Regions from separate parts of the Homo sapiens genome. Here region 2 is linked to region 1. Evidence: fine-mapped expression QTL. A gene starts in region 1. The other region holds a variant in brackets. All regions are shown on one strand. Distances are from middle to middle.

Evidence for each region. PIP is the estimated chance that this variant, and not a neighbour inherited with it, causes the effect.
Region 2: its variant is the best candidate, but not a certain one, in a credible set for the expression of SPOCK1 in putamen (GTEx, PIP 0.70).

The regions. Positions count from the first base shown.
Region 1 is chr5:137,497,682-137,500,593 of GRCh38, forward strand. SPOCK1 (SPARC (osteonectin), cwcv and kazal like domains proteoglycan 1) reads right to left here and starts at 1,645. Exons shown (of 11, transcript NM_004598.4): 1 at 1,498-1,645; 2 at 692-877. The coding sequence starts at 877. RefSeq lists a silencer at 1,596-1,815.
Region 2 is chr5:137,407,912-137,410,823 of GRCh38, forward strand. All of the region lies in intron 2 of SPOCK1 (SPARC (osteonectin), cwcv and kazal like domains proteoglycan 1), which reads right to left. Among named protein-coding and RNA genes, the nearest start is that of SPOCK1, 90 kb to the right of the region's middle. The variant AG/A (reference allele first, on the strand shown) is at 1,245.

The sequences.
Region 1 (2,912 bases):
CACTCCCAGGGCTCCCACGGAGGAGCAATGCTCTGCCACCCAGGGTCCCTTTCAGGGCAGGGGACCAACTGCACGGGCTAGTTGTTCCTGTTTCAAGATTCCGAGGGTCAAACCACCCCACCTCCCCTGTATTTTATCAGGCCCATTGCCATGACCGCCTCCCTCAACACACACACACACACACATGCAACACCTGACTCCCATAAATAGCTCCCCCATAAATAGCTTGGACCACTCCCAGACCCAACCTCTCCAGTAGGGATTCTCCTGACACACCCCAGAGATGGTCCACGCCACCGCTGCCCCGGGGAGGTTTTCTCCGGAGCTAGGGAAAGTCTACCATCACGGTTAGGAGAAGTCGGAAGCTCAGAGAACCTCTTTCTCCACAGCTACTGGTGATCTGTGCTGTATTTTAGTGCAGTCACCTCCCGCAGCCCTACGAATACACACACCTGGGCCACAGGTAACAGGCAAGCGCATGGAGCCTTCGAAGTTCTCTTTAAAGTTCCTTTCAGGCAAGACCGCACCCAGGAAGCTGGGACCGACCAGCCCCCGCGGGAGATGCCCACCTGTCCCCCTCCCAACCACACACACACACACACACACACACACACACACACCCCAACCCCGCTTCAGGGGTCCCCTCCGAGAGGCTCCGCGCCCCCCAGGGCCGGGTGGCGCCGGTACTCACGTCTCGAAAGCGGTTCCAGTACTTGTCCCGGTCGTACTGGGAGACGGTGCTCAGCCACTGGTCATTGTCTAGGAAATTGCCGTGGTTGGGGCCCGCGCCTCCGGCGAGCGCGTCCAGGTGCCGGCTCTCGACTTGGAGGAAGCACCACGCCGCGGCGGCCGCCGCCAACACCGCGATCGCCGGCATCTGCGGGGCAGGGCGCGCAGGGCGATGAGCGAAGAGGGCGGGCGGCCGCGAGCCCCGGGCACCCAGGCGTCCCAGCGCCCCAGCCCGGAGGCGGGGACCCCGCGGCGGGCACGGGCAGCGCTCGCGCACCTGGGGCGCCTGTCGCGCCTCTAGACCCAGGGACCCCTCTCACGAATGGGGGACTCATCTACGAACGAGGAGGCTGCGTCACGAATCCGAGGCTGCCGTCCAACTACAGGGGACCCGTCTCGTCTATTCTCCGAGTGCCCCACAGATGCCGCCCTCCTATCAGGGGCTTGGTACCCCTCCCCAGAAGCGGGGAGCCCGGGTCCGCACGCCGCACTCCCACAGACGGTGCGGTGCACACGGCTTTGGGGCAGGAGAGGGGAGAACAGGGCTCCAGCAGCACCCGAGCTCCGGCAAGCGGGGTGGGGGCTGCCAGCAGCTGGGGGTCCCCGGCGACAGCTAAGGGAAAGGTCTCCCTTGAGCGCCCTGAGGTCTCGGGGGTAAGAAAGGCGCGCGGAGGTAACCCCAGGCCCTGACCCTGCCAGCCCCCTAGGCGGCCGCGGGGAGGTCCCAACTACTCCAAGTTGGGGCGCGGGGTTCCTCTGGGCACGTACCTTGGGGGCCGGCCCGGGTCCCCTAGTCCGAGTTGCTCGAGCTCCCGCGGCACGGTCGCCGGGAAGGCTGATCGCCGGCTCGCGCCCCTGCGCTCCTGCCACACGCCGCCGCCGAGCGTCTGGCCGCTTTGTGAGCCCGCAGCGATGTGCTCTGCTCGCTCGCTGGCTCGGGCGCGGCGTCCGCGGGCGGAGGAGGCCGAGCGCGCGAGCCAAGGCTCTGGCGCCCCCTGGTGGCCGCGCGCTGCCTGCCCGACAGCCCGGCCGCCCCAGCCCGGAACGTGGTCATTCACATCTTTTTTTTTTTTTTTTTTTTTTTTAATTTACTTCTATTTTTTTTTTTAATTATACTTTAAGTTTTAGGGTACATGTGCACATTGTGCAGGTTAGTTACATATGTATACATGTGCCATGCTGGTGCGCTGCACCCACTAACTCGTCATCTAGCATTAGGTATATCTCCCAATGCTATCCCTCCCCACTCCCCCCACCCCACCACAGTCCCCAGAGTGTGATATTCCCCTTCCTGTGTCCATGTGATCTCATTGTTCAATTCCCACCTATGAGTGAGAATATGCGGTGTTTGGTTTTTTGTTCTTGCGATAGTTTACTGAGAATGATGGTTTCCAATTTCATCCACGTCCCTACAAAGGACATGAACTCATCCTTTTTTATGGCTGCATAGTATTCCATGGTGTATATGTGCCACATTTTCTTAATCCAGTCTATCATTGATGGACATTTGGGTTGGTTCCAAGTCTTTGCTATTGTGAATAATGCCGCAATACACATACGTGTGCATGTGGCTTTATAGCAGCATGATTTATAGTCCTTTGGGTATATACCCAGTAATGGGATGGCTGGGTCAAATGGTATTTCTAGTTCTAGATCCCTGAGGAATCGCCACACTGACTTCCACAATGGTTGAACTAGTTTACAGTCCCACCAACAGTGTAAAAGTGTTCCTATTTCTCCACATCCTCTCCAGCACCTGTTGTTTCCTGACTTTTTAATGATTGCCATTCTAACTGGTGTGAGATGATATCTCATAGTGGTTTTGATTTGCATTGCTCTGATGGCCAGTGATGATGAGCATTTTTTCATGTATTTTTTGGCTGCATAAATGTCTTCTTTTGAGAAGTGTCTGTTCATGTCCTTCGCCCACTTTTTGATGGGGTTGTTTGTTTTTTTCTTGTAAATTTGTTTGAGTTCATTGTAGATTCTGGATATTAGCCCTTTGTCAGATGAGTAGGTTGCGAAAATTTTCTCCCATGTTGTAGGTTGCCTGTTCACTCTGATGGTAGTTTCTTTTGCTGTGCAGAAGCTCTTTAGTTTAATTAGATCCCATTTGTCAATTTTGGCTTTTGTTGCCATTGCTTTTGGTGTTTTGGACATGAAGTCCTTGCCCACGCCTATGT
Region 2 (2,912 bases), 90 kb before region 1:
CTGCAGGGTCTATGCTTGCTGGCTGCCTCTCCCGCCCCCACCCCCACTGCTCACTTGGCTCCAGGCACAAGGGCCTCCTTGCAGCCCCTGCAACAGACCAAGCTCTGCACTACCTGGGACTCTTTGTAGATGATATTTCATCTCCCTGGAAGATTTTTTTCACTGCATCTTGACTTATTTCCTTCACAACACTTATCATTAACTGAAAATAGATGATTTATTTGTTTTCTGGCTTAATGTCTGTCTGTTAGTTCTACTAGCCCACAAGGCCCATGAGAACAAAGACCTTGGCTGTGGTATTCAGTGCTGTGTTCCTGACACTCCCCATATATTATAGAAGACAGAAGAGGCTAGGTGTCCCTCAACCCCACCATGGATGGTGAGTGGTATGGTCTTACCATCAGATAGTCAGGAGTGGGGATGTGGAGGGGAGAGAGACAGACAGGGACATGTTTCCTCTCATATAGGCCCAACCATGATGCCCAGCAGACTGAGGCTGAAGAAGAAACACCACAGCCCTTTGCTGTGATCATTCCTGCCTTGCCAGTGCCACCTCTAGCATGCAATACCTCCTAAGTGCCCTTGAAACACATCAGTTCTTGCCCTCCTTCTCAGGGATAAAAAGCTTATCTTTGTCTCTAATCCAAACCCATTCTTGAGAAAAAGTAAGGGGAAAGGGGAACAGCTTAAGCTCCTAGCTGTGGCCAACGTGAAAGGAACATGTTTACCCTCTCTGGACCCCATTTACTTTATTTTTTTTAACTGCATAACTCTTAAGGCTACCTGCAGCTCATTTTCTAATGTTATGTCATGGTAAAGGACACCAGCCTCCACCAACAGCCAATTCCCCCTGGAAATCAGAATAAGATGTCAAGGAAAGAACATGAGACAGACCAGGAGCAGCCCAGCTCCACCACTTACTAGCTGCATGGCCTTGCCCATGCTTCTTAGCCTCTGGGAGCCTCAATTTCCTCAACCAAAAAAATGGGAGGATAACTCCACTTTCCTCACTGGGTGAGTGGGAAGACAGCCCTCAGCACTGTGCCTAGTGCTCAATTTATGTTTCACGAAGGTCAGTCCCATCTCCCTCCCAAACCCCTTCCCCAAACACACATTTTAGAGCACAGCCTATCAGACTCCTGGGAAAGAAATCCAAGTCTGAAGGAATCCAGGCCACCTCCAGTCCCCCATACAATCTCCAAAGTGTCATGACCACCCACCCCTGACTCCATCCAGGAAGCACA[AG/A]ATATGGTCCCCACCTCCCCATCCTCAAAGGGGGTTTTCCCTTTCTTTATGAAAAGCCTGGAAGGAGGCAATACTGTTAGAGGCATTGAAAGTGTCTGTACCAATCCTATTTGTTATACCCTTCATAGGAGACATAAGCTTCATAACCCTAGGCAGGCAGGCTGAACCAAAGCCATGGGTTTGGGGAATCGCAGATCCATAGGCAGCATGCAGGTGGAGAGGGAGGCTGCCATGGGATAAGGCTGAAGAGTGCTGGGCTAAAGGAAATCTGGAGGAGGAAGTCTGGCCTAGCATCTCAGAGCACAGGATCTAGAGTCAGACAGCCTGGGCTCATATCTCAAATCTGCCATGTGCTAGCTGTGTGTCACTTTCTGTAAAATGGCATAATGATAGTACCCATCTCCTAGGGTTGCCCATAAGGATTAAATAAAATTAGCCTTAGCAGCATTTTAACACATGATAAATTAGCAATACTTGGCACATGATGAATATTACATGGGTAAGAGGCACATGGCAGCTGCCATGGGAGACTAGCTATTGTGCCCACAATGATTGGGTTGAGAAAGTTAATTTTGTTTTTTGGTTTTGACTTTCCTATGTTTCTGTTAGGTTAGAAGGATATACATACCAGAACTCCATTCCTTCCATCATTTGACAGCTATTATATGCTAGGCTCACTAATAAGTGCTGAGCAAAATAGACATCTAGCCCTTAGGGAACCTATGGTTGAATGGAAATTCAGTTTAGCTTGGTTTAGCATTTACCAGCTACCTCCTATGCTTCAGGCCAGGGCTGAGTACTGTGGTGGTGGGAAGGAATGCCCAGGCACATCAGATATGGTCTAGCAATGGCCACCATGAGCCACCTCCCACTGCCACCACATAGCTGGCCTGGGTCCCAGCTGTCTCCTCAAGCTGTGAAAACTTCACATTCTCCCTTAGCTTCACCACTTCCCAAATCATCACACCACAGACCTTATTATCTTTGCAAGCCTTCCCATTTTATGCCTTTATTATCATGCTCCTGATATTCGGCATTCACAGGCACTTAATCAAGGTGCTCTGCTGGTTTATTACAACATCTTTCAGCTGATCTATTTTCCCTTATCTAGACACTCCACCACTGCCTGTTAGTGTTTAAAAGGATCTTCCTGAGGTATCATTTGACTTGTTCCTGATGATAATTAATTTTAAGAACTGATCAAGATGTTAAGGGGAACCAGCCCTTGGAAACTGATGACCATGTAGGTTTATCATGACAACAGAGCCTTTTTAAGATGTTATGAGCAGGCTGGCTGCAGGAAGCCAGGGAAAGGCTGTTTGTTGATAATCATCTCATTGGCTGCATGGATCACGGCTGTCAGGTTCTGTTATTGGTTTCATTATTCCAAACAAGTTCCGTTCTGTGCCCTTTGGATAATTGGCCCAGAAGATATCCCTGCATTTTAATAAAGTCAACAAGTATTAAATAGGGACTGCACCCCACGCCACTGGACAGCTCTCTTTGCCTATGGCATATCACAAAGATTAGGCAAGCAAGATTCACACCTGTGAGCATGAGCTCGAGTTCAGAAGGGAGTGTGCCACACCAGCTCTCCAATGGACACCACCCAATGCACAGTCAGAGACATCCCATGCACAAAGGAGACCTGCTTTCCCTCCAAGGAG